Linked DNA regions of Homo sapiens: region 2 is linked to region 1. The links come from fine-mapping of genetic effects on gene expression. A gene starts in region 1. The other region holds a variant in brackets. All regions are shown on one strand. Distances are between the middles of the regions.

Region 1 (15,199 bases):
TAGCACACAATATTTAAAATGAAACTCAAATTAACAAATCACTACTGAAGTTGAACTTTGTTTTGGGAAATTCAATCCTACCCTAACAGGTGAGGATGACTCCTCTGTATTTCGTTTCTGGGGCTCAGTGTCCACGTCTTGGCGCTTGTTCTTCATTCTTTCTCTAAGATCCCCTGTAGGTCTTTCTGGTGACCTTTGAACCAAAACACAGAAACAAAACAAAAAACGAAACAAAACAACAAAAATCTGTATTTATATATTAATAACATTTTATAAGAATGTATTTACAGAAATAACCTCACAAATCTCAATACACTTTTTCTAACTGACCTTGACTCCTGAATTTCTGAAAAATTTCACCTTAAATATTAATATGCAAAACACGAGCAACACTTACAGTTTTTCTCCCAATAACAATCAAAATGTATATGTTAAATTCCACGAAGTGGCAGGTACTGGTGATGTGAATAAGAAATTATATGTGAACTGAGAAAAAGGAACTAATAGCTTGACTTGTTTTCCTATTAATCACATAAATATATTAGTTATATGTGGGAGCAAAATGTAGTAGTAACACAAAGTTTTAAACTACAAAGTTGCAAAATTAATCTAGAGGTAGCAGCATTATCATTTATACTGAAAGATATAAGAAGATATTACAAGAAATAAGTTTCTTGTATACACATGCCTGTGGTTGGATGCAACATCAATAACTGAGAAAATATTTTATGTACCTTAAGTAAGAATCAAAGCAAATATAGGAGCTTTAAAATTTATCTTAAATTTTAAATTATTTCAGAATAAAGATAAAGGATTCAAGGCAATTTTACAACAGTGATTTTCATATTCTGCTGTAAATTTTTTAACTAAAGGAAAAATACATATTTATACTCAACAGTGGTAAGGCTTTATTATTTATACTAGAAATTTGACAGTATATGGCTATGCAATTATTTTCACTATCAGTGGGAAAAAACAAAGGAGAGATGGAAAACAGACTGCCTTTAAAGACTATTTCTACAACACCTTTAAAACAGGGCAAAAGAAGTTAAGGAATGCTCTGTTCCTCTTTGACTACCAAAAAGTACTATATATAAAAAAGATATAAACAAATCACATAAATATTCACATCTATTTCAAGCAGTCATTGGGCAATCAAATCAGTTCCTTGATTTTATGAATATAAATCATAAGGTTAGTAAAGAAATAATTTGAGTTAATTCACTTTAAAGGATCTCATTAATGTTTACATGCACATGTAATAGATTTATATTAAATGTTTTAACAGTTAAAGCTAAACTTGAAACTGGAATCTCTTACTAAGAACCAGTACTTAAGTGCTCTAAATTATAATGATGTACATGTAAATCCTATGTGCCCTGGTTTCCTTTATATAATAAAACACTTTAGTATGAACTTGTTTCTATCCTAAACAGCACCCAACAGAATGAATGTTTTACACACAGCGAATTCTCAATTAATTATGTAAAAGTCTTGTATATAAACATATAAATAAGCATTCTGTAAAATACATTGCTTTTCTTATCTTTGACTCGCATTATGAACTATGTTTTTCCTCCCGACAAAAAAAATGCACAAATACGAAAGAAGTTATCAGATGGAAAATCATACACAAAATAGCAAAATTATAATAAATATTCTTTATTCTAAGTCTAGCAATGACATTACTTTTTCCCATTTTAGACAAATTTCTCTGACCATTTTTCTCAAAATGATTTCTTGAATAAAAATTCTGAGTCAGCTAATAAATTTCAAAGATAAATTTTAAAATGTATCAAAAGTATAGTATTAAAGCAAAACATTAAAAGTATCGAAATAGTTTCACCAGGTATGTATCTACGTGTATATATACAAGTAAACACACATATACAATAAACACTAATCTTCCCACATTAACGGAAGTGACAAATGACAATCTAAATACAAATAAAACAGTATTCAGAATCACAAATAAACTAAAATGTACAATGTTTACGTGAAAAAGAAGTTGGCTAATGTTGAGGGTTTGAATTTTAAATTCTCCTAAACAAAATCTACCCATACACTACCCCCAAAAAAATCATTCAACTAAAAAAAAAAAAAAAAAATTCCAATTGCTAATGTTCAGTTTTTATAGTGTTGCTATGCTATAGCCAAAACAATCAGTGTAACCAATTTTGGATCTAGGTAAATTATTTCTTTACCAATCAAGTTAAAACTGTTTTTGTGACAAACTTTATGTATATTACATCTTTAAATACCATAAAATAATCATCATGAGGGAACCAAAAGAAAAATAAAAGGTCTTTATTAAGCAAGTTTAATCTAGCCAAGCCTTTATTAAAGGCAAAACGATGTTCGAAATATGGAGCATATTCATCCACATATAAATACATATTTTCATTAACATACTGTGCTAAGGGATTTGGCAAATGCATTTTAACCTATAGAATTTGTACAAAATTTGAATTCAGAACATCTTAAACAGCTAAAATTATACCCTATTTGAATTTTACTATTTTAAGAGTTAAAAATAGCCTCACTAAAAAGAAATTCAGACACCATGGAATTCTGCTGTCTTAAGCAGCAATTTAATACATAATTAGGGGGGAAAAAGTAAGCCATACACATACTACAAAAAGATCTACTGTCAAAACAAATAAATAATGAACAAATAAGTTAATTTGAAAGCAAACATTTTATTAATCTTGAAAATAACAAAAAGATCCTGTCGATCTTCAATTACTGGTAAGACTACCACCAATATAGAAAATCTGACCAAATATATGGTTGTATTTCAGATTTTTATACTAGATAAATTACAAAAGCCATCTTCTAATAGTACATGAACAATACAAAGTTCTCAGTTTACCTTCTATAATTGCTGCTATAACCTTTACCACGAGGTGAAGGGCCATGTACGAATCTACATGTGTTTCCATAGAGGCAGTTGCCAGTCTTCAGCCAGTTACGGCACTGTGTCTAAGAGACAGATATTACTATGTAAATTTCATATTTATTTCTGGAAAAAAAAAATGCTAGCGGGACAAAATTAAAACAAATGCTACCAAAATTCCAGCTAACCTGTGATATATTACTCCCCAAATAATAAAAACTTCAGGAAAAAAATATGGAAAAACCCATAAACCTTATCACCCTTTTCACTTCTTTTTATAAAACACACTTTAAAAAATTTACTGAACAAACATTCCTACAATAAAACAACCTGTTCACCTTTATGATACAAATAAGCATTTCAATAATAGAATTCTAAGAGAACCCCTGTGACTATACTAGTGACAACTCACCTCTGCTGTACTGCCAGTGCTGGGTCCAAGCCTCTCAAATACACTGGGTCTTCGGGATGTGCTATCAGATATAGTCTTGGTATTTTCCACTGTGACCTTCCTTCTAATTTTTGACATTTTGTACTACTTCAACCAAAAAAGAAAGAGGCAAAACTGTAAAATTCCTCAGTTTTAAATAACTGAGCCCACAGCTTACAAGTAGATAAAACTATAGGTAACAGTGTAAAATTACAGGAGATTTTCCTTGGGAGATTAAAAAAAAAAAGCATAGGAGAGGTCACAGGTAAACAGAGATAATATCTTCTAAAACATGCCTTACTGGTGAATTTATAACAGCTGTGAGATCTGTTGGCTAGAATTGTACCTCTTCTGCAGAGTGAACGAATATGATCCTACTCACACAGTGAAGTTTTCATAGTACAATCAACCTCAGAAGATACAGTACAAAATGTTTACTTTATAAAAGTTACTTACAAAAATTGCTTCAAAATTTAGTAACTCAAAGTTGTTAACCATCAACTGGTTAACTGAAAAAGAGTTATGCTAAAGAAAATGGAAAAATAAAATTGGGTGAAAATTTTCATAGCAGAAATTATGTTTCATAAGTTTAAGGGACAACAGCAGTTATGTTCCAAAAATCAGGTTGAGAAAAATGAATGATATTTTAGTATTTTCTTTGCCTGACAGAAGTCAAAACAATCTGATCAAGCATATTTATTTTCCAGTAACACAAAAACAAAACAAAACAAAACTCAATGTTGATAGAAACAACTTTCAAAACAGGACAGACTGTAGAACTAGAAAAAGTCGAGGTGTTTCTATAATCTATACTACACTGACATAAAATTCAAAGGTGTTAAAAGTAATTATCAGACTATTTTACCATTATTAGTAATAACAAAAAAGGCAAATTGTAAAAATATTTTTATTTTATTTTACGTTTAAGCTCTGTTAGATTTGATGTAAACATAAAAATATTTTTTAAGGGCCAGGCACAGTGGCTCGTGCCTGTAATCCCAGCACTTTGGGAGGCCGAGGCGGGCGGATCATGAGGTCAGGAGATCGAGACCATCCTGGCTAACATGGCAAAACTCCGTCTCTACTAAAAATACAAAAAAAAAAAAAAAATTAGCTGGGCATGGTGGCGGGCGCCTGTAGTCCCAGCTACTCTGGAGGCTGAGGCAGGAGAATAGCATGAACCCAGGAGGCAGAGCTTGCAGTGAGCCGAGATCACACCACCGCACTCCAGCCTGGGCGACAAAGCGAGACTCCATCTCAAAAAAAACAAAAAAACTCTCTCTATATATATATATGTATGTAAATAAAACATTCAAAAACTGAAACTATAGTAAAAATCTAATCCAATGACATAATTGGGTAATTCAACTAGATTTGCAAGTATCAGATAATGACAGTATATTATGACATTAGAAAACAATATTAAATTCTAGACCAAGATACAATCCAGAGCATACACTACTGTGGGAAGAGGGTAGAAACTGCCTCATAAGGGGAAGGAAAAAAAACACCATACTATATCCCGCTTTATACAAACTAAATATTAGTTGAAATCTTATCAATCATCAAAAGTTACTAGAATGAACCACAGCAGCTAAAAAAGTTTCATTTAGTCTCTATAAAGATCACAAATCTTTAATGTGGTTTCAAAGTAAAGACATATCACTTTAAAGGAAATTAAATCGTGGTAGTACCTAATTGAAACAGCAATAAAAAATTATAAACAGTGTTTGGTTCAATGAGGTACTTCAGGTCACACTTTTAAAAGAATCCAAAGACTAAGAACAACATTTGATAAATAAAAGATGGTGCATCAAGGAAGGAAAATATGAAATAATATATGGTGATTTTAAATTGGAAAATCTATATTTTTATCAATATAAAATGTAATAATTCTTTTGATATAATAGCAATTAATTTTTAGTGATTTTAAAAACAGAATTACTTCACAGTAATTATAAATTTAAGAACCAGTGGAGAGCATCACATAAACAATAATTTGCTGCAACACAAAATCAATTAAATATTAATTGTTCTCCAAGTAAGGAACTACACACCAATTCTACATACTGGTGTTAGCATTATAAGATAATCTTTGATTTAATTTTTCTTAGACTCATTCTCAGCTGAAATGTGAACATACGGAGGAGAAGCTGGTAAAATTTCCTATGTCTATTTGATTTACTGAGCACGAAAAAACTGAAAGCTAAGAGAAGTGGAGCTGAGAAAGATCTAGAAAATGTAGAGCTTTGAGAAAAACTTTTTTAACAATATATATCCAAGCATGATTCAATAATAAGTAAATGTATCACAATGTATAAGAAGTTTGAGAAAAACATAAAGTTTCATTATATATTGCTACATTAATATACAAATATAGAGTAATCCTCAACCAATAATTCAATTTTTAAAACATTTCTTAATAAACAAAATTGAATAGGTTCCAAAATTTCCTTATTTGCTAGTTATGTAGAACTTAGAAAACAGGCACAACCATCCCACCACACTGCCTCAAGTGGACTAACACTAATTTTTTATTTTTCCCTCCACTGTCACTGGAAATGAGTTAGTTCTGCCCCCAACATCTCTACTACCCCCAACATGCCTCCACTCCCAGCTCAGTCTCCTTCAAAAAATTCAATGGTAATGGTTTCCAGTTAGGACGACAGGCTATTTATTATCGTACTTATTATACTTAAAACATTGGTCATCTATCATCTCCTTTCTTTTTACTTTTTGAGGGTTCCAGGTATTAACTCTACAGTTTCTTTTTCTGGTCTGTCCTCTGTTGCCTGATTCGCACTACTCTCCTCCCTTGACCTATTGCTTTGCTGGTCTGAGAGCTTCTCTCCAATCCTAGACTCCCTAAGGCAAACTTTGAAGATTTCGCCGGGCGCGGTGGCTCACGCCTGTAATCCCAGCACTTTGGGAGGCCGAGGCGGGCGGATCACGAAGTCAGGAGATCGAGACCATGCTGGCTAACATGGTGAAACCCTGTCTCTACTAAAAATACAAAAACAAAATTAGCCGGGCGTGGTGGCAGGCGCCTGTAGTCCCAGCTACTCGGGAGGCTGAGGCGGGAGAATGGCGTGAACCCGGGAGGCGGAGCTTGCAGTGAGCCGAGATTGCGCCACTGCACTCCAGCCTGGGTGACAGAGTGAGACTCCGCCTCAAAAAAAAAAAAAAAAAAAAAAAAACTTTGAAGATTTCAAGGGTTGGACTTGCTATGAAAGACAATCAAGTGAAGACTAATGATCCACCTCCTCACCTCCCTCACCCTACGCCCATATTCTTTCCACAGAGACAAAATTGCTTTTACCAGTGACATCAAGAACTATTCAAGATTCACCTACATAGTAATTATCCCAGGAATTTCACTTGCAGCTACTACTGTACTGAGTCTCCCAATTTAGCGAAGAAATGAAATTAAGTAAAAATGTGGCCAAGCGCAGTGACTCACGCCTGTAATCCCAGCACTTTGGGAGGCCAAGGCAGGCGGATCACGAGGTCAAGAGATTGAGACCATCCTGGCCAACAGATCGAGACCATCCTGGCCAACATGGTGAAACCCCGTCTCTACTAAAAATACAAAAATTAGCTGGGTGTGGCGGTGCACGCCTGTAATCCCAGCTACTCGGGAAGCTGAGGCAGGAGAATCGCTTGAACCCGGGAGGTGGAGGTTGCAGTGAGCCGAGATCGCGCCACTGCACTCCAACCTGGCAACAGAGGGAGACTCCGTCTCAAAAAAAAAAAAAAAAAAGATGTACTCTACTTTTTCTCAGACTCCAAGAGTACCATACTTTGTCCTAAAGTAATACAGCATCTGAGTATGCGGTCTGGGTTACAGCAAGGTCCTGGACTGAACATTTAAAACAAGAATAATGACAACAATAATACACACACACATATTCTTAATAAAATGTTCTTTAATGTGATATATATATGTGTGTGTGTAAAACGTCTGGTGAAAAAAGAAAAAAGCAGAAACTGAAGATTTCTAACTGAAAAAATTCTTCTGATCATCCATGTAAAAACTTCCACAAGTAGTCAACAATAAAATGTTACTTAAATATTACTAATGAGACATTCATGAATTTGAATAAACAAAATGCTTCATGCTTGTAAAGAACACAATATATAACTTTAAAAATCCCATTTATCTAAAAATATACACACTATCTACAATACAGCAGAAAAACATTTCCTTTTTCATATATTAAAACTAAATGTTACCAACTAATGTGACAATTAGAATTTTCAATCCTATTTAAAACTTTGGGCCCGTAAAGGAAAATGAACACCACAACAGTTAAAATGTAGATTTTCGGGGCGGGAAACTTTTTCAAATTATGTATGAACAGGCTGAACATGACAAGTAAATGCTTCAAAGTATATGAGAAAAATTAGAAACCATAAGATAAAAATGTAAATACTAAAGTCTTTCCTATCATAGAGAATAGAAATCAAGGTCATACCAATAACTTACTAATTTACTCTTCTATGAAGGTTTTCCTCCATTTTTGTTTTCAAATTATTATTTGGTTTAAGTTGCCATCACACTTCCACCCACATCATCAAGTCTTTCTCAAACACGAGCATTATCAAAGACAGAGTGGCACTAGTGAAAGCCTATTTCGTTATTTTCCTATTTCTCCTCTCCATTTGCAGAGCAAATGAATATCTGAAGTCTTTATAATCTCTTTTCAATTAAAAAAGAAAATGGAAAAAGAAAAAGAAAATCCGGGACACAAAGTTTGAGTCTATTAATAAAGACACAACAAAAGAGGGTCTTAAATGGGAACTGCTCCCTTGCCCCGAGAAACTTAGAATAACACTGTACTCAGAAGGTTCACATTATAATTATGGCTGAGAAAGGAGAAGCATACAAAAGGGTCTCTTTTTGAATAATGACTCCAGAAGCTCAATTAATAAAATCTTGTCAATAAACACATATGCGTTCTAGTATCTTCACTTCAATCCATAATTAATTATCTTTTCCAGGTCTCATCTACTGGAAGCATAAGTGAAAGCATAACACTTTAATCCGGATGAGTAGCGGCATAATATTAGGGAAATTTCAAACAATTAGGCAATTAAAACTACATGAATGTACTAACTAGTAGGATAAATCCCTATACTCTGAATTTCTAAGATTAAAAAGGTGATACTAAAAATAAGGTATCTTCACATTTATACTTCATATTTTTAGAAAGAAAAATTAACTTTATTTGATGCATAGTTTGAGAGAATTTTTTAAAAAGAACTTTCTAAAACAAACTTTCAGATTGCTTCCGTAAATTTAATGCTAAAACAATTCCAAACTAAATTCCAAATACAACTGACAGAACTAAGCTGACTACATAGGAATTAGCAAAGCAACACTGCAGTACTATGCAGAAAAAACAATTTGTTAAAAAGACTGTGCACAGAAAACATCCCATGCTGGTAGCTACTCTAAAGTGAAGTAAAAAGAACTGCATCATACAAAAATACAAAAAAAAAAGAATAAAAGACTCTTTCTATATCAACAGCAGTTAATGCTTCAACTACTACTAACAGCTGGAGAAATAGCTCCACCTCTATATGAGATGGAGTTGGGAGAGATGAGGAGGTGAGGAAGACTATCATCCACTGAAAACCAACTCTCTAAGTAAATTTAAGTTAAACAATGTGTTTCCTCTATGTAAATGCCAATGCATATTATAAATACTGATGATATTACAATTTTAATAATTTGTAAAGATGTTAAGATACCATCCACTTGCTGGATTTTTAGTATGTTAAATTCATATTACAAATATGAAAATCACATAAGCTTGCAAATCTCAAAATATGCAATGTTCATTTAGAATGACCAGTAATCAGGAAGCCAGTAAGAGGCATACATTTGATAAAACTGAATCCTACCAGATGCACAGAGTGAAAGCCTTAGTTTCAGAGTGCAACTATTTTTAAAGCCGCAATTGTTACAAGCTTGCATCAACTTTGCTAGTCTCTAGTTGAAACTGTCATCTGTTATAATCTAAATAGTTCATTAAGAAAATAAAAATTATTTGAAAATCTATAGATTGTATTCACAAAACGCTCCAATATATTGTACTAAAGCCAGTAATTTCAAATGTTACAGAACTAGACCCCGCTAACTGGCACCATATACCCATAGACTGAACTGCATAAGTATTTATTCTCCAACGGTATCGCGGACTTCGAAAACTTGAGGTGTAAAGATGTTTTCCAAATTTTTAAAACTACTTTAAAAATCCAAAAATCTTAAGAGACTTCATACTCCCATAATTTTCAAAGTAGTTCGAATTACCTGAAAGCCCCATAGTATAACCAAATACCTTAAGACTACCCTTCACAAACAACATCTTACCAACATAATTCAAGTATTATCAACTCTAAATAATTTTCAAACCACATAAATTGCGTTAGCCTATTACAGAGAGATAATGCCGCCAAACAGACTCTCTTCTTTCTATTCCACTTTCCCCCGTTTCTGACAGTTGCCAAAACTACCTACCTAAGGCTTGTGAAGATAAAGTAGCACTCAATTCCCAGGACCTAAATCGTTATCACTGCTGAGGGAAAAAAAAAAAAACAAGACCAATCACAAGTAAGATGTTTTTCTCTAACAGATCTGGAATGAGTATAGAGGAAGATTCTAAATTTAAGCCCAAATTGCTGCACCCTTCCATCGCACACAAATACGAACACCATACAAGGGTTCCCGTGCTTACATCAAATGGTAACGAGGGGTACAGCCTATTGTCTGAGTCTACTTATCGCCCTTAGACAAATGCCAGAATCATAATCAGAGTGAGAAATTACGCCTGAGCACAGGGGGCTATTGCAGAGTTAAGGGTGGGATGCTCAAGGAAAGCTCAAAATCCCAGTGACTCAAGCAAAGACGGGGGGGGGTAACCCGGGCCTCCGCATTACGGGTCCGCTCAATGCCTTCCCCAGATACCCACACCAATTCACAGAACGCTTACTTCCTCCCCAAGCTCCCTTCGCAAGTGCAGTCCGGAGGCACCACCGCCGCCGCCGCTCCGAGGAGCGGGGGAGGCGACTCTGTCCCCGCGCCTGGACCCAGGAGGACGACGACGAGGAGAAAGCGATGCGCGCGCGGCTCCCGGGAACCGGCTCTTGGCTAGCGAGGAGCCCCCGGGATGGCTGAGAAGCAGAACCAACCCGCCCGCCGCCTCTCCAGGGTCAAGCGAAACTGGGTCGCAGGAAGAAAAATAACGAAGAGATTGTAGATTAAGAAAAGGCAACAAAAACACTACCAGGCCGCTAGGAGGACCGCCTCAAAATGCCGCCGGAAGTCAGAGGTTTGCCCTGTTCCTCTGTAGACCCAGGCAGCTTCCGGCCGTCAGATTAGTCGTCAGTGCGCAGACACCACCCTTCGTGGACACGCCCTCTAGGCGTAAGGTTCCATGCGAGCGGTAAGAGTGCGGCGGGACTTGGAAATCGAATCTGTGCTCTGTGAGAGATCCTAGGAAAGGAAACTGGGAGCCCGGGAGAACTAAAATTCCCAATTAAAAGTGAATTTAAGTGAGTTTTCTCTTTTTATTACATAATTCCTTACCATAAACAGCTGTTGTAAATGCGCAAAATGCGGCATTTGTTGACAGTACCTAGAGCCACTCATTCATTCGTTCAACAGTGTTTATTGAGCAGCTGAGCTGGAATGAGAGGCTATGTTTGTCGTTTTTGACACCCCTCCCCTTTCTGGGCCATCGCCTAATTACCGTGGAGCAAACGGAATGCATGGTTGTATTTCTAAAGGCACAAGCAGAAATTTATTGAAAATTTGGAGCAGAAATCTTTAATGTACTTCTGACCACCCTTCCTTTTGTTGAGTAGGATCCAATGATCAGCGTGAGATGATCATTGATTAAACTTGCTTGAGATGGCTAGTCAAACGTCGAAACTTGCTTGAGATGGCTAGTCAAACGTCGAAAATCAAAGAAAAAGTAGGTAACTAGACTTTTACAATTTTTTTTAAAGGGTAAAAAGACATGAACCCTAGTCTGCCTTAATGGCAAAGTAGCACTTATTAGGTTCTCTGACAGAACCAAGGAATAGGAAAATCTTTTATCAAAACTACGGATAAAACTTAAAAATAATTTGATACAATGATTTGGTCTTGCTGGAATCAGTAAATTAAAATACGGAAGCAGAATGATAAAATCAGGGGCATTAAACATTCCTAATGACATGCCAAGCTATTTTAGAGACAGCGGCAAAAGCTTCTCTACAGGTGGGTTTGATGTAACGCTCCGGCAGCAAGAATCCGTATGTGCCCGTATCTCGAAGTTCAATTGTAAACGAATATTTGATGCCCAAATCATAGATCCAATCGTCCCCACCTCCAGGAGCTAGGTCTAAAAGAAGAAGAAAGAAATTGTTGAAATACAGACGTTTCAAATTAATTTACAAACTGGGAATTGTTTGATTTAAATGTTTATTTGTTTGTATACCTTTAGATTTTTTTCAGTTTTTAACTAATATAAACAACTTTACAATGAGTACCCTTGTTTATACATAATTGCTTCTTTGTCTCTTTAGAATATTCTTCCCTAGAATAGATTTGCTAGTCTAAGGCTCTGTACTTTTTGCAATTACGGCATGTTCCCAAATGGACGTCAAAAGAACTGAATTCATTTATACTTCCACAAGCAGGGTATGAATTTGCCCATTTCCCCTTCCCATACCATCAATAGGAATTATGAATTCTGATAATTTTATGGGCGAAAAATAATATCCAACTGTCTTAATTTATGTTTTTTGATTATCAGTGAGTTGCACATTTGTTTGGCATATTTATTGGCTATCTTTATATTTCCTATCAATTGTCCTTCCTCATTTGTCTACTTGGTTCATTTTATCAATTGCTTATAAAAACGACATTAGTGTTATTAGCTTTGTTTGGCATGTAGACCTTTTTTTCTCCTTTCATTCATTTCTCCTTTCACAAGAATTTTTTCTCCTTACTGAGATTTCAACTTGGTTTATGCAGGGTTTTCATATGAAAATATATGCTGTACCTGGAATTTACTTTGGTGAAAGACATGTTAATAATCCAATTAATTTTTTTCTAGGTAACTTGTTAGGTTTTCCAACCGCATTAATTGAATAATCTGACTTTTTTTGGGGGGGTGCTAAATTGAGTCCAGGTTTATGGCAAAGTCTGACCCAAAATTTTAATTTATAATTTTAGCATCTATCTAATACAGTTTGGGAAGCATCTCATGAAAGCTACAATTGCCAGAAGACTTGTTACAGTTTAATGCATGTTAACTAAAATGTGTACATATTTTAGTGTTCATGATAAATACAGTTTCGACCTTTTTTGAGATGGAGTCTCACTCTGTCACCCAGGCTAGAGTGCAGTTGCACAATCTCAGCTCATTGCCACCCCCACCTCCCAGGTTCAAGTAATTCTTATGCATTAGCCAACCAAGTAGCTGGCATTACAGGCGCCTGCCACCATGCCCAGCTAATTTTTGTATTTTTAGTAGAGACAGGGTTTCACCATGTTGGCCAGTCTGGTCTCGAACTCCTGACCTCAAGTGATCCTCCTGCCTCAGCCTCCCAAAGTGCTGGTATTACAGGCATGAGCCACAGCACCTGGCCTCTTTTTGTTTTTTTCTAATCATTAAAAAAAAAAAAAAAAGGAAAAACCTGGATTTGGCCTTCAGGCTGTAGTTTTCTGATGCCTGGTTACAGGTTTATTTTATGCTCCTCTTTTCCCATCTCCCTTCAAACTTCAAAAGGGCAAAATCAGTCTGTCCTCCCACTGTGTGTAGATAGGAGTTACTCACTAAATATCTTTCAGCAAAAATTAATCAAAACTTTTTGTTAAGAGTTTGTCACAAGTTTTGTGTGTGTAATATATATTAAAGACAATCAACTGTAATGTGTTATGAGCTATACTCTTGGGAACAGGCTAACACTAAAAAACACTTGATGCAAATGGCATGCCCTAGATTAGTGTAGTGTACAACCTGCACAACCTTCCATGGTGGCCCTGGGAATCATGCAAAAGTTTTATGAACTTTTCTGCTTCACTCAACTAGTATGATGCCAATTCTGTAATTCCTACTTGATTGTGATAAATATGATTTCTTAAATAGGATTTTGGCTTCTTTTTAGTAACTCATTTATTAATATAGCTTTGTTCAGCATTGTCATAGCTATTATGCTTCTGTTCCTAATTATTACAATTCAGTTGTATTACATGTGACCCTATTTAATTCAGAAAAATTAAATACACAAAGAAAAACAGATCACACAGATTTCTTTAGTAGCTCAAAGTTCTCTAAGATCATAAGAAGAAATACTTACATAAGGTTTCTGAGCCATGGCCATGTGTATACCTGGTATTTTTACTAATTTTCTCAATAGCACGAACTGCTTCACTGGCTACTAGAGACTGGAAGCAACAAGATATAGAATTTCAGTTAATGTGCAGCTTTGAAACATGACAAGTAGAAGTTTCTAAAAAATAATCATACATTAATTGAATCAAAGTATACAGGTAGAAAATCTAGATTCATCTAAAAGGCAAATAAATAAGGTAAACAAATTAATTTAAAATATGTGCACTTTATGGCAATCACAATTGGGTGGCTTTAAACATAAACTATTTCAATATATTGAAATAATTTATATAAATAAATATATTAATTTGCAGAAAAAAATTATCACATGCCTTTTTGGGAACTCATTTATTATGGAAAATGAAGTATAACTACATCTCAAAGGCTTAGAGGTACTCCATTTCTGAACAAAATTATCACCAAACTTTAAATCCAACCTTTCTAAACACATACAAACACCTAATGCATGCATGACTCACTTCTTATCCTTCTCACAACTTCTATTTTCTTCTTGTGTAAAATGTCTAATGACTTCCATAGATTCATCAAATCAAAAAAGATTATGCCTCTGGTATGGAGCAGGATAATAACTAAGACCCCCATTTGACTTCATTTTGTCTGTTGATATTCATTTTGTCAAATCTATTCTGAAGTTCTCACTTATCTGGAACTTTTCGGAAATTGGAACTAGCATCATGGTATACACTGTCACCTTCTTGAAAAACTCAAGAGATTTATCAGCGGATATTATTTTATGCCATCTCATTGTTCAAAAAATAAGTTTTAATGTAACCCCATTGTCTACATAATGAAATACAAATTTATCTGACAGTCACACCCCTTCAGAAGCCAACCTAATCTACTTTCTGATGCTATCACCCTCCACTTTTGCATCCTCTTATGGTGAACACCAACTTCTTTGCTTGGAAGGTCCTTCCTTCCCTGTCTGCCTATAGAAATCCTCTTTCAATGCCTGTCTAAAATGTAGCTGATCTTTGACATCAACAGCACTTTATTATTTGTAGTTTTTCCCCCCCTTAATAGATTGTAAATTCCTCAAGGACAGTAACTACTTTATCTCCTCACTTATCTCAGCATTTCCCTCTGAATGCATTAGTGAAGCCATCCCTTGATATTCTAGTTAGAAGTGAGTTGTACTGTCTGTGCCACGTATTTAGTAGTTACTCTATGTCGCCTTAGAGTACAACTATTTGTAACATTTGCTAATGGTTGAGCTCCCTAACCATAACACATTCTCTTAAAGGGCAGGATTTTACCTAATGCTTCTTTAAACATCCATTGACAAGGTATTTTACACGTAATGGCTCTCAACATATATGTGTGCTGGCAGTGATGCAAAAAAAAAAAAGCATAATTAGACTAATTCTACTTCCCAAATCATGATAAATTTCCTTTTATTTCTTCAAAGATAATATTTTTGAAAGGTGCTTTCCTTAACAGTTTTCCCTTGAGAAGAAAAAAGCT
Region 2 (15,429 bases), 77 kb before region 1:
AACAGTTGAAGAAATAATGTTCTACTTAGAAATACCTGATACCAGAAAATAACAAAGATAACAATCATACATACCTTCTACATCAGTAGAAAAAATTGCAAAATATAAGAGCAAATTAAAATAAAAATTTCATATTTTATATAATCAAAGAAAAGATCCTCACTGTGATTTAAAAAAGTTGTTAGTAACAATCAGACACTAATTGGAATGATTCAAGAGGAATATTAAGGGGTGTTGCTTCATGGTATAATCACTGGAATGAGTTCCAGCAACACACAAAGTACTGTAAGTCAAAATAATTACCAAATTTAGAAAATTGATAGAGGTATATAGTGTTCAAATATAATTTCAACTACTGTAAATTTTTGACAGGTTGTTTAAAAAGTTGGCTTGTGTCACCACAGTTGTGAAGCTTTGTACCATATAACTACCATGTAGAAAGAACATTGCTAGACAATCAGTATTTGTTTAGATTCCAAGTCATATAATATGATTCTTAAATTCTGGAAAATAAACTTTAGAATTTTGCTATTTTAAATGAGGCCCTTTCTAATTCATAGACAATGCCTACTTAAAAAGGAGTAGGCATATAGGCTATAATTTTCATTTTATTGGCCTTTCAACCTTAAGTAAAATGTAAAAGGAAAAATTCTAAGTGTCTTAGGTCAATTTTTACAGAGTAGAAGGTAATAATACTTTAATATCATATAACAGATAATTTTCATGTTTAACCACCTCTGCAAATAGTTACCTGGCATCTTCTCCTCATCCTGTTGGTCCTCCCTCTTTTCTGCATCACCTGCCAGAATTTCATCTAGTTCGTCATCACTGATTGGCTCGTATCCTTCTCCAGCACCAGAGCCTAATGAATGTGCATCATCTAACTTGGACTCGTCATCTCCTGCTAAATAGACAAATTAATTTCAGATCAAAGACAACATTAAAGGGAGAGGATGACTAAGTCAAACCAAAAGGTAGAGGGTACACACATTATAACAATGTGAAAAACATCTTTTCATCAGAAAACTGTATCTCTTAATTATTCAAATACTTGATAATATCAAAAGAAAACAAAAATAAAATTTAATTAGTTAAATTAAACTTTAATAGCAAGAATACAATCTGGACAGCAATTATGAGAACAGCTTATAAGATCACAATAAAAATATGACAAATAAAAGCTACTACTAACATACTAATGTTGACTGTGTATTATTTTTGATAATTTAAAACTTTAAAACTCAGACAAATCTAACTTCAAAAGATTTTGAAGTTATATTTTCAAATTTTCACAATTTATCTAAACAAAGTAATTTAAAAACTTGCAAACATTTAAAAAATTTACTCGAAGCTTAAATCTTAGTTCATATTATTTAGCTCATTATATAAACTTTACAACAGTGAGGTAAAAATACAAGAAGTGTCTAATTCTCTCTCAACATCTCAATTCCTCCTCCCTATCTCAATGATCTTCTTGCATTGATGAACACAATTTTTAGAAAAATGCTTTAATACAATTAAAAATAACTTTGTTAGTTCCACTAGTGTATGTTCTATTTTTTTATTTTACCAACTTTTTTCAACCACCTATGCTAAACTTTGTCTCTTGGTGAGTTAGTTGTGAACTTAATCCTAAAATTACAGAATACACTTAACGTTTACAATCACTAGCTAACCATACATTTCACTGAATCTACAATACTAAGTTTCAAAATGTAACCATATGCTTTATGGGTATGAATTTGCAGCAAATAAAATATAAGAAGTTATGAGATGTTTCTAGTCATTCTAGTGATTTTCCATGTTATTAAATTCTATAATAATCTCCCCATATCCTCACTAAGTCACTTCTAATGTAACCAATTTTAGTAACTTTGTCATATAAACATACATCTAAACATAAATGCACATAATAGGATTTTCAACTTTTCAAGTTGATCCAACTCATTTTCCTACTTTGAGTAAAAACTTTACATCACATAGCAAGTGATTCACCTATACATTTCTATTCTATATTATCTGTGATCATAACCAGCAAATTATATATTTTAGAGATGAGGGATACTGACTCCAATCACAAGAGAGCTATTATAATGATTAATTCAATTATATTCAATTATATCCCAGGGTTGTACCTCCATCAGAACCATGCTTTATGATTTGATGCTATTTATACTCAAAATTGAGATGAAAATGTAATGTGAAGAGATGAATTTGAAACAGTAAGTGCCTCGAGCAGAGAAGGCTTCATCGAGAAAATAATGTATAAATTGGGACTTGAATTTTGAGTAAGAAAGATGAGATAAAAGAAAAAGGTCTATCAGGAAATGGTATGAGTGGGTACAAAGAAGGGCAGAGAATGGAAAGGCATGAGTCAGCTTGTCTAGTAAATGGGGGCTGAAGGGTAAAGAACAGAAGCATGGAGAGTGAGGTTTCACATAGCTGAGGCTGGCTCTGAGTTGATGCGGACTTAGCATTCCTATTCTAGGACTAGGGAGTACCAGTGGGATTCTAGTCAATCCTACATTAAATACAGTTTTAGGTAGTGTTATTGTTTCATATATTTGTTCTCAACTGCCCTAGAAAATAGGGATTCACTAATAATTATTTGAATCCCTCTCTGAACTAAGAAGTCATTTCAATTTTTGTAATCTTATTTTTTTAACATCTAAGAAAAGGATGTGATGGTTATTCTTCAACATCTATACACACTGCATCTAAACAATCTTTTATTTCATTTAGGTTTATGTGAACCAAATCTGCCTTAATGGTACTGCTAAGGGGACCACATTAAAAAAATATATATATCTCTATCTTACAGGCCTTTTCCTTCTGAAATCTACTTCCTCTATAGAAGAATGGAGAATGGAGTCAATTTGCCCATTAGTGGGTGCCCTTTCAAAAGAAAATAGTTGTTTCCCACGAAATCTGAAAAGAAATAAAGCAGTATCACAGACAACAGAGGTAGCACTCACCTTCCAGACTCTCAGTTCTCTCGGATTTATTTGTTTCTTCAAATCCCTGCACAGATCCCAGATCTTTATCCATTCTCTCTTTATCCAAGGCTAGAGAGTCTCGGGAAGTGCTTTCTAGATCCCTTTCATGTTCACCTTCCAGTTTTGCTTCACAGCGTTTCACAGACTCTATTTGAGAACTCTCAAAAGTTCTGTCTCTGTCTCTGTCCCTGTCCCTTTCAACAGAATCAGAAATTAGTCTCTCTCTTTCCCTATCCAAGTCTCTCCTTTTGTCTCGTTCTCTCTCTCGTTCTCGTTCTCGCAATCTATCTCGATCCCTGTTGCGTGGCCAATCTTTATCAGCATCTCGGTCCCATTCTCTCTGCCTCGTATCTCTCCTCTCTCTCTCGCGCTCTCTGTCGTGTTCATATCGATCTCGTTCTTGAAGCCTGTCTCTGCTATCAAATGACCCAGATCTTGAATGGACCTGTCGATCTGACTCTGGAGAACTTCTTCTTGAACTATGGCTTCTTGAATCCTGGCGATCTAAAATAAATATACCATATATAAAGAGTTATTAGCACATGATAAAATAGAAACAAAATGCTTCATTTCAAGGTCCTTTAAAACATAATTTACCTTTTTCCATATTCTATGTAACTTTCTATGTTCCATATTGTCTCTATATGTTCTATATATTTCTATATTCTACATATACATTTCTCTCTATAAATATCCAAATATATAAATCATTTTAAGAAAAATTCCTCTCTCAAAGTTCTAATAAATAAAAAAAAAAGTTTCCTTGTCTATTTCCACTATAACCATAAAATATCTTCCAAGAAGTACATAAAATGATTAGGCATTAATAGAACTAATCACTCCATTATTTGATCTCCTCCTACTCCCCTATCTTATTTTCTGTGGTCAAAAGAGGCAGCCTTGACTGCATGAAGAATAGCAGGAAGGTTAAAATCATAGGCATCAATAAGGGACTTGAACACATAAACCCTTCCACCAAGACATACTACTAAAATCCTGATATTAAACTGATTAACACTACTGTATGTATTTCTATTATAATGTTGGTATTAATGTGATAACAGGTAACATTTTGATAGGGCAGCTAAACTTTTCTTTAAAAAGTTGCATAAAATTTAAGGCAGCATGTAAAGTAACCAATTTAGCATTACTTTAGAATTAAAATGTGTATAAAATATACTAACCTAGGAAACAGTGACTAGATCACAATTCAATTTTATTACCTGAAGAAGTACTTCGACTGGGTTCTCCACGCTTTAACTGATCAATCCTAGATTTTCTCTCTCCTGTGATTTCCAGGCTTTTTGTTTTTTCTCTATCTCTTGAGCCACTGTGCAGTACTCTCTTTCGACCACTTTGGTCATCTCCACTTCGATGGGCTGAATCATTGGATGGGGAGCGAAGACGACCAGACGTATGACTACGGTTACTCCGATTGCTCCCGAGGCTGCTGCTCCTCTTTTGATCCATAGGCTTGCGATGCTGTGCATCTTCTATAGTCACGTGAGGCGTCTCTACTTTTTCTACTCGTGTTCTGTGGCATTTTCTGTGTGAGTCTTCATTGGCAAAAGTATTATTGGTGGTATTGGTGGGGGTGGCAGAGGTGGAAATAGTGATGGCAGATGTGCTGAAAGAGGTGGCGGCAGCAGCAGTAGTGGCAGCAAGAGTTGCAGGCACAGTTGTAGCAGTGGCAGTAGCCACAGGCGGTGGAGGAGGAAGAAGAGAAGATAGAGGAGAAGGGGTACTACCAGGAGTCGTGGCGGTGGCAGTATGCTCTGCTTCTGTCACCTCTGTACGGTCAGGGACATCCTCATCAGACCAGTCACTGAATGCTGTATCTTCTTTTTTCTGGGAGTCCTCTAGAATACCATTCTTACCATTGCACATTTCAACCAATTCCTCTTTAGTTGTTATAGGGGGAGTCCGTGGGCCTCTTTTCTTCTTACTTTGCTGGGCTGCTTCTTCATCAGAAATATCAGAATCACCTTTGGATTTTTTACGTTTTTTTTCAATGCTTTTCTTTTTCTGTCCTTTTTTTGGTGAAAATACTTGACCATCTTCAGATGTTGTCTCTATGTTACCCCTCTCTATTCCAACATCATCCTCTTTCTTTTTCTTAATTGGTTTCTTTTGAATTTTTGCTTTCTTCTTGTTTTCATCATGAGCTCGATCAGATGTCTCTCGATCTTCAGACTGGTGGTGTCCTATAATGTCCTGTGCACGCATTCTTGAGCTTTCCAGGATTTCTGTCTGTTCTCTCTGTTTATCTACAGAAGAAACTTTCTCCTTGAGTTCCTGTTCTTCGTAGCGCCTTGAACTCTCTTTCCTTTCTGGTTTACGATCCTCCTCTTTCCATCTACCCTGTCTGTCTTCTGTGAGGTGCGAGGGACTAAGAGAACGAGATTCTTGAGGTCGTACAACTTGGCTCAAGAGTCTGTGTTTTTCATCTATATAAAAGATAAAAGCAATCACACTCTCACCAGGTTAGTAACCACTGCATGGTACATATAGATTATAATAATTTCTCCTCACACCTGTAATCCCAGGACTTTGGGAGGCCGAGGCAGGTGGATCATGAGATCAAGAGATCAAGATCATTTAAAAACTTTTAAAATGACAATAATTTTAGTAAAAATAAAAATATGGCTTTACTATAAATAGTAGAAAATGACAGTACTCTAACACATACTTTAGTCACAAAAGGAGATATTTAGAGGCAGCAAAGCAAGACAACTTTTTAAAAATCTTAATTCATCAGTTCCTACTAGTATGAAAGGATGGTTTCATGGTTACAAATGAATATGAATATAGAGAGACAGAAAACAGAGTCTGCTTACTTTTATCATCTCCACTGTTGTAGGCATCACTGTCCGGAGAATGTTCACGCCGGCGCTTCGGGGACTGTCTAGGGCTGGGACTCCCTTCATTTCTATAGCGCTTCCTAAATTGGACAAGCAAACACAATTTATAAAATTCTAGGGGGCAAAAAAAGAGATTTTTTTGTTTTTACTAGTATCTCTTTACTATAACTGGAACATATAATTGTAGGAAAGCAATATTGCCAGAGTGTATCATACAAAGGATATTCAGTGTCTTTAATACAAATTCTTTACTTCATTTGCTAAGAATTGTGAACTTAAAATACACAACATTTCTTCTTCTTCTTCATTATACATGTAGAATAACTCAAGTGAAAATTGCCAGATTTAAATACTGTAAGGTGGTAACATGCAGCACAGAAACCAATATATTAATGTACCCTCTGATATAAACATTCAGCAATTTTGCATTCTTATGATATAAAAATGCCTTATGCTGCAGAGCTGAATGAGAAAACCTAATATTGGCTTTGAAGTAAAAAAGCTATGAGTTCAACTTATAACTACATTAGTTATTACGCAGCCTTAAGTAAGTTCCTTGAAGTCACTGAACCTTAGTTTCTCATCTGAAAATGGTGGGTGGGGCTGAATGGGTGGGAAATGAGAGTCCATTTCATAAAATTGCAGTAAGGAATAAATTAGTTATGTCATAAACCCAGTGCCAAATATGTTGTGGGTACACCATAAAATTAGTTCCTTTCCCCTTCATGGAAATCACTTTCTTGCTGACAAATTAATAAAATAATTCATACGTTCATTATATTTTTTGTTCCTTAGTTGAGCTTTAAATGAGTAGCGTTTTATATCTCTTGGGTACTTAAATTATTCTAGTGTTTTCCCCCATTTTCATTAAAATTTGACTACCTGTTTTTTCACTAACATTGTTTGTTTATAAATACTATGGTCAAAAGTTAAGAAACATATTGTATACATGGACCAATGGAACAGAATAGAAAACCCAGAAATAAAGCCAAATGATCTTCAGCAAAAGCATACAAAACATAACTGGGGAAAGGACACTCTATTTACTAAATGGTGGTGGGAAAATTGGCAAGTCACATGTAAAAGAATGAAACCGGATCCCTCTCAGCTCAAACAAAAATCAGCTCAAGAAGGATCAAAGACTTAAATCTAAAACCTGAAACCATTAAAATTCTAGAAATTAACACTGGGAAAACTCTTTTGGACACTGGCCTAGGCAAAGACTTCATGGCCAAGATTCTAAAAGCAAACGCAACGAAACCAAAAATAAATAAATGGAACCTAATTAAACTAAAAAGCTTCTGCACAGCAAAATAAATAACAAAGACAACCCATAGAATGGGAGAAAATGTTTGCAAACTATGTATCCAACAAAGGACTAGTATCCAGAATCTATAAGAAACTCAAATAAATCAGCAAGAAAAACATAAATAATCCCATCAAAAAGTGGATAAAGGACACGAATAGACATTTCTCAAAAGAAGACATACAAACAGCCAACAAACGTATGAAAAAATGCTCAAAATCACTAATCATCAGGGAAATACAAATTAAAAACCACAATGAGATGCCACCTTACTCCTACAAAAATGGCCATTAAAAAGTAAAAAAAACAGGAGATGTTAGCATAGACATGGTGAAAAGGGAATGCTTATTCACTGC[T/C]GGTGGGTATGTAAATAAGTACAACCTCTATGAAAAACAGTATGGAGAGTCCCTAAAGAACTAAAAGGAGATATTTGATCCAGCAATCCCACTACTGGGTATCTACCCAAAGGAAAAGAAGTCATTATATGAAAAAAAAAAACATGCACATATATGTTTATAGCAGCAAAATTCACAACTGTAAAGATATAGAACCAACCTAAGTGCCCATTGGCCAATGGGTGGATAAAGAAAATGTGGTATATATACACCATGAAACCATGGACTACTACTCAGCCATAAAAAGGAAAAAAATAATGTCTTTTGCAGCAACTTGTTCTCACCTGTAAGTGAGAGCTAAGCTATGAGTATGCAAAGGCATACAGAGTGATATAATGGGCTTTGGAGACTCAGAAGGGGGAGGGTGGAAGGGGAGTGAGGGATAAAAACGTACATGTTTGGTACAATGTGGACTACTCAGGTGACAGGTGCACTAAAATCTCTGAATTCATCCAGGTAACCAAAAACCTCTTGTACCCTAAAAGCTATTGAAATAAAAATAAAACAAAAACATACCAGCACATGTATATCATAGACAGCTCCTTTATATAGATGAACAACCATGTGGAGAAGGCCCCAGGTGTAATATGACAACTCACAGGCCCAAGCTTGTGTACTACTTTATCCAAAGCTCCTCTCCCATCAATAACTGGCCTATTTCCCCATTTTTCATATCTAATGACTTGCTATGACAAGAGAATGTGGTGAAAGTGACACTGTGCAAATGTGAAGAGGATTCAGGAGGCCTTGCTGCTTCAGCTTCTGCCCTCTTGTTGTTTCTACCATTACATGCAAAGCAGAGTTTAGACTACTGAAGGCCAGGGGGTCAAGTGGAGGAGAAACAAGATGCCCTAATTGCCAGACACATGAATGAGACAATCCTGGGCCTCCAGGCCCAGCTGCATTGTCAGATGTAATGTTGATACAGGAGTTACTCCAAGTGAGACCAACAGAACAACCACTCTATTGAGCCCAGGCAAAACTGCCAATCCACAGAATCATGAGCAAATAAATGGTTGTTGTTTTAAGCTACTAACTTATGTGGTGATGTGTTATATATCAAGAGATAACTGACAGACTGGAATAAAGTGAAAATTTAAAACATGAGAAAAAGTTATTTCAAGGAAATACCTAAATAAACACAATTAGAGTAAAATAAATACAGCAATTAGGCAAACGTTCTACATAAGAGCAGTTAAAAAAAGTGCTGGATAAATTGAACTACTGAGATGACAATACAGTTAATGAAAGATTAAGATATTAATCTCATGTAATTAGTTTCTGTTATAGAGTTATTCAACTTCTAAATTTCTGGGGTCATTGTCAACTCTTAGATTGTCTAACCATGAAAAACCAGAAAAACTTTTGCTATTATAAGCAGATATCAGAAGCATGAAAAAAATACAGGTTGCGTATCCCTTATCCATGAAATGCTTTAGGTTTTGAATATTTGCATTGTACTTACTGGTTGTGCATCCTTCATGTGAAAATCTGAAATGTTCCAATGAGCATTTCCTCTGAGTGCCATGTCAGTGTTTAAAAAACATTAGATTTTGGAGCATTTCAAATTCTGAATTTTTGGATTTGGGATGCTCAATCTGTACTAATGAAAGCAGAGGACTGAATAAAAGATAAATAACAAAGATTTCAGAATTTTAATCTTAGAAAATAAAGAGGTCAGAAAAGTAGCGGGTGGGGAGGGTGGGAATATGTACCTGTGCCTCCATGTGTTAAAAAAGGTATCTCTGAAGTTTATGTTCAGGTAAGATTTTTCAAAATGTAAGGAGAGGGAAGCAGGAAAGTAATCCAAGGAGTGTACTACAGAAAACCATGGCTGTAGATTAAAGAACAGCCAAGACCTAAGGGAAGAAAGTTCTACTTCTGTGCTGTGTTGTTTGGCCCTAACCATAATCCACAATAGTGAGGATGAAAAAAGCCTAAAGCAGGGACCCTGTATTCGCCCTGTGGCAAATGAGTTGGAGGTAAGAGCAAGAAAATTGAAGATACATAAATTATTTTCTCAGTATGTTTTGGCAAGGTAAACCACAGTGTTTATCCCAGTTGGAGGCAAAAAAGTAGTTAACTCTAGTAAGTTTGGTTTTGTGCCCACAGAACTTCAAAATTGACCAATCTGAGTCTAGAATTCTCATGAACACTGTGATCAGCTTAGTCAATAACTGTCTCCTCACCAACTAATGAGAGCCCCAACTCAGAGAGGACTGCTAAGCTGACAGGGACAACTCTGGGGCCATCTTAGCCATCATATGGAGAAAACCTTTCTGAGACTGAAATTAATACAGAGGGAAACTGGAGAGATGGAAACTGCTAATGCTTTGTTTGAGAATCTGGATATAGCCACATCAGAACAAGCAAAAGCTAATCTCCAACTTCCTAGATATTTGAGCAATAAGTTCTTTTCTGGTTAAAAGGGGGTGAGGTGGGAGAATGCCCTTAGGTATATCAGATGCCAAGAACACATTTTTTGACCCCAAAGAACTACTCCACAGCACAAGAGAAGACACTTCCTTTTCTCTCATCTTCGAACCATGCAGTGATTACAAGGATTCCCTCAGTTCCAAGACATTGTGAATGCTTCCTGTAGCCTGGGGGTAGTGACTCCATAATTACAAGCACATAAAAGTCATGAAGGATCATCAGAATGGCACAGGTGATATCCCTTGGTGACTAGTCTAGGGGATGTGATGGGATACAAGTTCACTGATTCCTGTCTTAATTTAAAAATTATTTTTTCTAGACAACTGAAAAAACTTTTTTTTTTTTTCCTGAGACAAGGTCTCGACCCAGGCTGGAGTGCAATGACATAATCTTGGCTCACTGCAACCTCTGCCTCTCAGGTTCAAACAATCCTCCCATCTCAGCCTCCCAAGTAGCTGGGATACAGGCACGTGCCACCACGTCCGGCTAATTTTTGTATTTTCTGTAGAGATGGAGTTTTGCCATGTTGCCCAGGCTGGTCTCAAACTCCTGGCCTGAAGGAATCTGCCTGCCTCGGCCTCCCAAAGTGCTGGGTAAAAAAACTTTAAACACCGATACATATACTAAATTTGAAAAACAGGAAAATATACAGAGAAAAAAAATTAACAGGAAATTAAGAGTATATTGAAAAGCATTAAATGAAACTTTGAATTCTTTCCTGAAATGTAAAATGTTATTAATAACTGATAATTATTCTTACTTTGATTTTCTTTCATCATGTCCATCTCTTGGATTCCTATCTTCTCGGATCTCTTCTCGCTTTTCTCTGCGGTCATCTCGTCCTTTGTCTTTGTCTTCCCAATCCCTTTGGCGTTCTCGTTCTTTATCCCTTTCTCTCGCTCTTTCTCGTTCCCGTTCTCGCTCTCGCTCTCTCTCCCGTTCTCGCTCTCTCTCCCTCTCTCTCTCTTCTCTTTCTCGTTCCCGTTCTTTTTCCCTGTCTCGTTCCCTCTCTCTTTCCCGCTCTCGATCGTGGTCTCGGTCTCTATCCCTTTCACGATCTCTCTCTTTTTCTCTTTCTCTCTCCCGTTCCCTAGCACGCTCTCTTTCTAGTTCTCTCTCTTTTTCTCTTTCCCGATCCCGTTCACGTTCCCTCTCTCTCTCCCGCTCCCTGTCTCGTTCTCGTTCCCGATCTCTCTCTCTAGCCCTTTCATCTCTCCTATCATCCACTCTGTCTACTCTTCGTTCCTCTCTTCTTTCATCACGCTCAAGCTCGTCATTCCTTCCCTGATGTCGAATTGGTGAGCTTGGTCTTTGATCTACAATGAAAATCAAGTTTTGTCAGTGATTAATTTGACAGATAACCTATTGGTAAGACAGCATGGTAAATCTTAAATTTTATCTGTGATAGGGTCACACTGGCAACAAATTACAAACCAAGTAGCATATTTAATTTTAACTTAATATCCAAGTAACAATCGCCCCTAGACCTTAAATTTTTTAAAGATAATTTTTATTTGCCCTCTAACGACCATGTTTCCTGCTCCCCGTCAACCCCCTTCCCCCCTCCCACTGATCAATCTTTGATCTTTCTCTGCATGCTCCCTACCCTACCTCCAGCCCACTGCTCCAACCCCACTTTCTGCCATCTCTACCCTTCACCTCTGATCTTCTCTGTCCCCCCAGCAGGACCTGAGAACACTGGTGGCAAAGGATAGGGGCAGCAGGAGGTGTAGAACATAGGAGCTGAAGGAAAAAAAAAATTTCCCTCGTAAGTCACACCTCTAATTTCAGGCCAAAATATATACACATCAAAGTGCAGCTATTATGTGAGGAAAATATAGTAGAACAAAACATATGTCAGAATTTGTTGCTGCAATATAACATGAACTGTAATATTAAGGGTACTGATGTCTAGCAATCTTGAAATAAATGTAAAAAGTGTTTCATATTAGTGATATATATTTGTAATTAATAACCAATTACTAATAAATTAGCTTTAATTACATAAATGATTACTCAGATGAAGAGCTGTTTTCTTAAAATGTTAACTGATAACCTCATCACATTTTATATAAATTTTTTCCATGTACACACAAATCACATAAACACAGAGTAAATGAATGCATGCTGCCCAAATACCCAGTTGAGCAGAAAATTAGTCTGGGATAAAAAAACGTTTAAGAGGATGGCATGAACTTTTTCAAAGAGACAGCCATTTTTGAAAGCAACTACTGCGGTCTGATCTAGGATACTGTGATGTTTCCATTTACATACTATATATCTACTGGTTTTTGATAAAGATCATATTATAATCAGGCCAACAGGTTGGTAAGTGGAACATCTAACATCAACTCATTAAGCAGAACAATTTTAGGATGTTTCTAGGAAGGGTTCAATACAGTATTCTGGATTTCCCTTCCTAATCACTGATTGAAAAGACAAGAATTATCTTATCTTTACTATTTTAGAGGTTATAGACCCAGATACAAATGATCATAGCATTTTAAAGCTGAATCAAAATGAAATCCTACACAGTTGCTTCTCCCCCTTTCTATTTAAAAACAGAAATTATGGTCCAGAGTTGTCTTCCCAATGTCACAGAGATGGTAGATGCATTAGAAGTCAGTTTTCTTAAACCCTTTCACTTTTGCTGAAACCAACTTAAAGTGGTTCTTCTGTACCATACTTTGGATTCCTAGAATGCTATCTACCCATCTTTTGTATTGTCTGAATTCCTGGTTTGGAGGAGTCATACCAACATCATAATCATTACAAGATAACCTGAAACAAATTCAATACCATTAACTTATAGCAAATCATACTTTAAATTTCTAATTACAGCAATATCAGCAAATAGACTATTCAGACATGCTTTTATGGGAGATGTATTTTCCCAACCAAAATATCAATGCTACTTTCTTCAAAGGAAAATGGAAAGAATATAAGAACATCACTTTAAAATGTCTAAATTATCTTCCCCTATCTTTCCCCCAAAATGTGTTATTCAAAGATGTGCTTCTACTTACATATTTCCTTATTTTAATAAATGACATACCAATTCATTAAAGCTGACAATCTCTGGGTTGTCTAAGCCTCATCATATCCAAGTACAATCAACTTCACTTCTAAAATATTTCTTTGTTCCTTTTCCTGTCCCCATAGCTATAGTTATTAACTCAGACCTTGATCAGGTCTTCTTAGATGCCTATGTCATCAACAGTCTAACTAATTGGTATCCTTGTTTTCAATCTTTCCCAACACCCTTAATATGTTTTTGATGAAAATTATTTCTTCCAACTGTTTAAAAGTAGTTATCTTGTAGGCAGTGAAAGGCAATTAAAATCAAATTTTTTAGCCTGACTAGGCTAAACTTAGGTCATTTACTACCTGGCCTATAGTCTTTCATCAGTCCTTTTCCCTGGTTTCTTTTCTACCTTGCCAATTATAGCATACTCTGACTCCAATCTCATAATTCCTTACTACTCCAAAGCACATGTTTCTTTCAGTTCTGGTGTCTGTACATGCTGCACCCTCTCCCTGTAAAGTGCTCCTTCTATAGTTTCCTTTTATTCTTCAGGCCCTAATTCAGATGTCACTTCTTTAGGCAGCTTTCTTGGAATTGCTCAGAATTGTGTTTGCTCCTTTGTCTTCTCACAGAACTTTTATATACAGTAGTAGCATTTTATCACACTTTGTTTTTTTGGGTGGGGAGTTCTTCCCTCTCCCCATTAAATTCTACAAGGACAAGAAATTATTGTACCTCAAGTGCCTAGCAAAGTGCCTGACATGGGTACTCAACAAATATTTGTAAAATATTCATTAGCCTCCAAAATATATTTTTATTTCAATCATACATCTCATAATTATTGAAGTAGTTACAGTAAAATTAAAATAGAGAACTGAACTTCTGGTCAGAAGACCTGAGTTTGAATTCCAGCTCTGGAACCTACTTCTCTATAATATTGTAATCTTACTACTCTTAGATCTAATCCCCAAAACTGTGAAAACATGAATTATTTTATCATACCTACACTTACAAGGATATTGTAAAGACTAAGTCAGAATATATGTAAAGCAACTATCAAAGTTCTTGGCACCTAGTAGAAGATCAATACATGTGGTTGAACTAACCATAAGATTGAAACCAAATGTTACTATTGAATTCAGGCATGAGATGAGAAAAATCTGAGCAAGGATATGAAAATAGAAAAAAAGGAAAAAAGAAATTTAAAAAAAAGCATCACCAGTTCTAAAAGTCCCAGGGAAGAAAAAATTTCAGATATCAACACAGAACATAGAAACTCCAGCCCTATCTGTAACTAAGGAAATTCTACACATCTTTTAACCAAAATGCATTAGGCTTACCTTATAAACTCAACCTAATCAATTCTCCTACTTCTGATCCTATCTATGCTCCCAAAAGTAGATGATGCCTTAGAAACTTTATTCTTCTCCCACTACTAACCAATCAAGATATAATATTACCTCTTTGATTCAGCCCATAGTAAAGTATCAATATTCAATTCTCTGGGCCATCAAGTTTCATGCTATATTAATCTCAGCATTATAGTGAACCTTACTTCAGCCAAGGTTAGTAAGACCTTCATAAAATTTTTAATGTTTAAAGGCCCTAATAAGTACAGAAATAAAAGCTTGCCAAAGAAAGTATTTACAACCCTTCTTAAGTGCTTCCTAGTAATCTTGCTTCAAAATTCATTTAAGAGATCACCTGATAGATGAACAGAAAAAGTTTTAGCTTAAGACATATAAGAACGTAAAATTAGCTAAAGCAAATACCATATCTTCTCAGGACAGAATACAAATAAAATATTTCTCTAAACAATCCCCAGCCCTATCATTCAGTTTTTTTTTACTGTTCCTTTCTGGAAGTCCTTATAAAATTCTATTGATCATAGCAAATGAGTGAGTAGACAGGATACTCAGATGTAAAGGTTTAGGTATTTCTTGAATCAGAATTGCCTGGAATAGAACCCAACCATCTACATTCTTTAAAGGTTTGTAAGCTATTTGGGTAAGATGAGAAACACACAGTAGGGCACCCAAGTTTTTGCACTTTGTTGCCAGTAGGTACTGGTCACTAGCTATTGACATAATCCCTCCTAAACCATGTGAACAAAGATTATATGAGTATATATAATAGTTTCAAATGTGTCATCGAGCACAAGCCTTAAAGTATATTTTATATTAAAAAGTAAATTGGTAACTGTTTGAAAAAACAATTCGCCCAATTGATATTGTTCACTATTTAATAAAATTCTGTTTGACAAACCTCTCTCTCTGTTGTCACGACGGTCTCGCTCTCCATGTCTTCTCTCAAAGGAAGAATCCCTTGCTTGATCTCTGTTGTCTCTTTCAGGATATCTATCTCTTTCAGGATAGCTACTTCGAGTTTCCCAGCTGTCATGATAGTTGCT

Which allele goes with the higher level. Alleles are on the strand shown, and positions count from the first base shown. SD is a standard deviation of normalised expression in the study named.
For the expression in sigmoid colon of the gene that starts at base 10,664 in region 1, C is the low allele of the variant in region 2 and T is the other (small effect, 0.13 SD a copy in GTEx).

What was found. PIP is the estimated chance that this variant, and not a neighbour inherited with it, causes the effect. A credible set is the group of variants that fine-mapping cannot tell apart.
Region 2: its variant is the best candidate, but not a certain one, in a credible set for the expression of ZC3H13 in sigmoid colon (GTEx, PIP 0.61).

What each region holds. Positions count from the first base shown.
Region 1 is chr13:46,042,083-46,057,281 of GRCh38, forward strand. ZC3H13 (zinc finger CCCH-type containing 13) reads right to left here and starts at 10,664. Exons shown (of 19, transcript NM_001330564.2): 1 at 10,322-10,664; 2 at 3,309-3,434; 3 at 2,873-2,982; 4 at 82-193. The coding sequence starts at 3,425. It overlaps CPB2 (carboxypeptidase B2), which reads right to left. Exons shown (of 11, transcript NM_001872.5): 10 at 13,680-13,767; 11 at 11,104-11,716. The coding sequence ends at 11,532. CPB2-AS1 (CPB2 antisense RNA 1) reads left to right here and starts at 10,766. Exons shown (of 3, transcript NR_046227.1): 1 at 10,766-10,883. RefSeq lists enhancers at 9,848-10,384, 10,385-10,920, 10,450-10,619, 10,630-10,829.
Region 2 is chr13:45,964,529-45,979,957 of GRCh38, forward strand. It overlaps ZC3H13 (zinc finger CCCH-type containing 13), which reads right to left. Exons shown (of 19, transcript NM_001330564.2): 11 at 15,285-15,429; 12 at 10,755-11,310; 13 at 5,834-5,937; 14 at 4,220-5,443; 15 at 2,976-3,500; 16 at 752-904. Among named protein-coding and RNA genes, the nearest start is that of ZC3H13, 81 kb to the right of the region's middle. The variant T/C (reference allele first, on the strand shown) is at 7,520.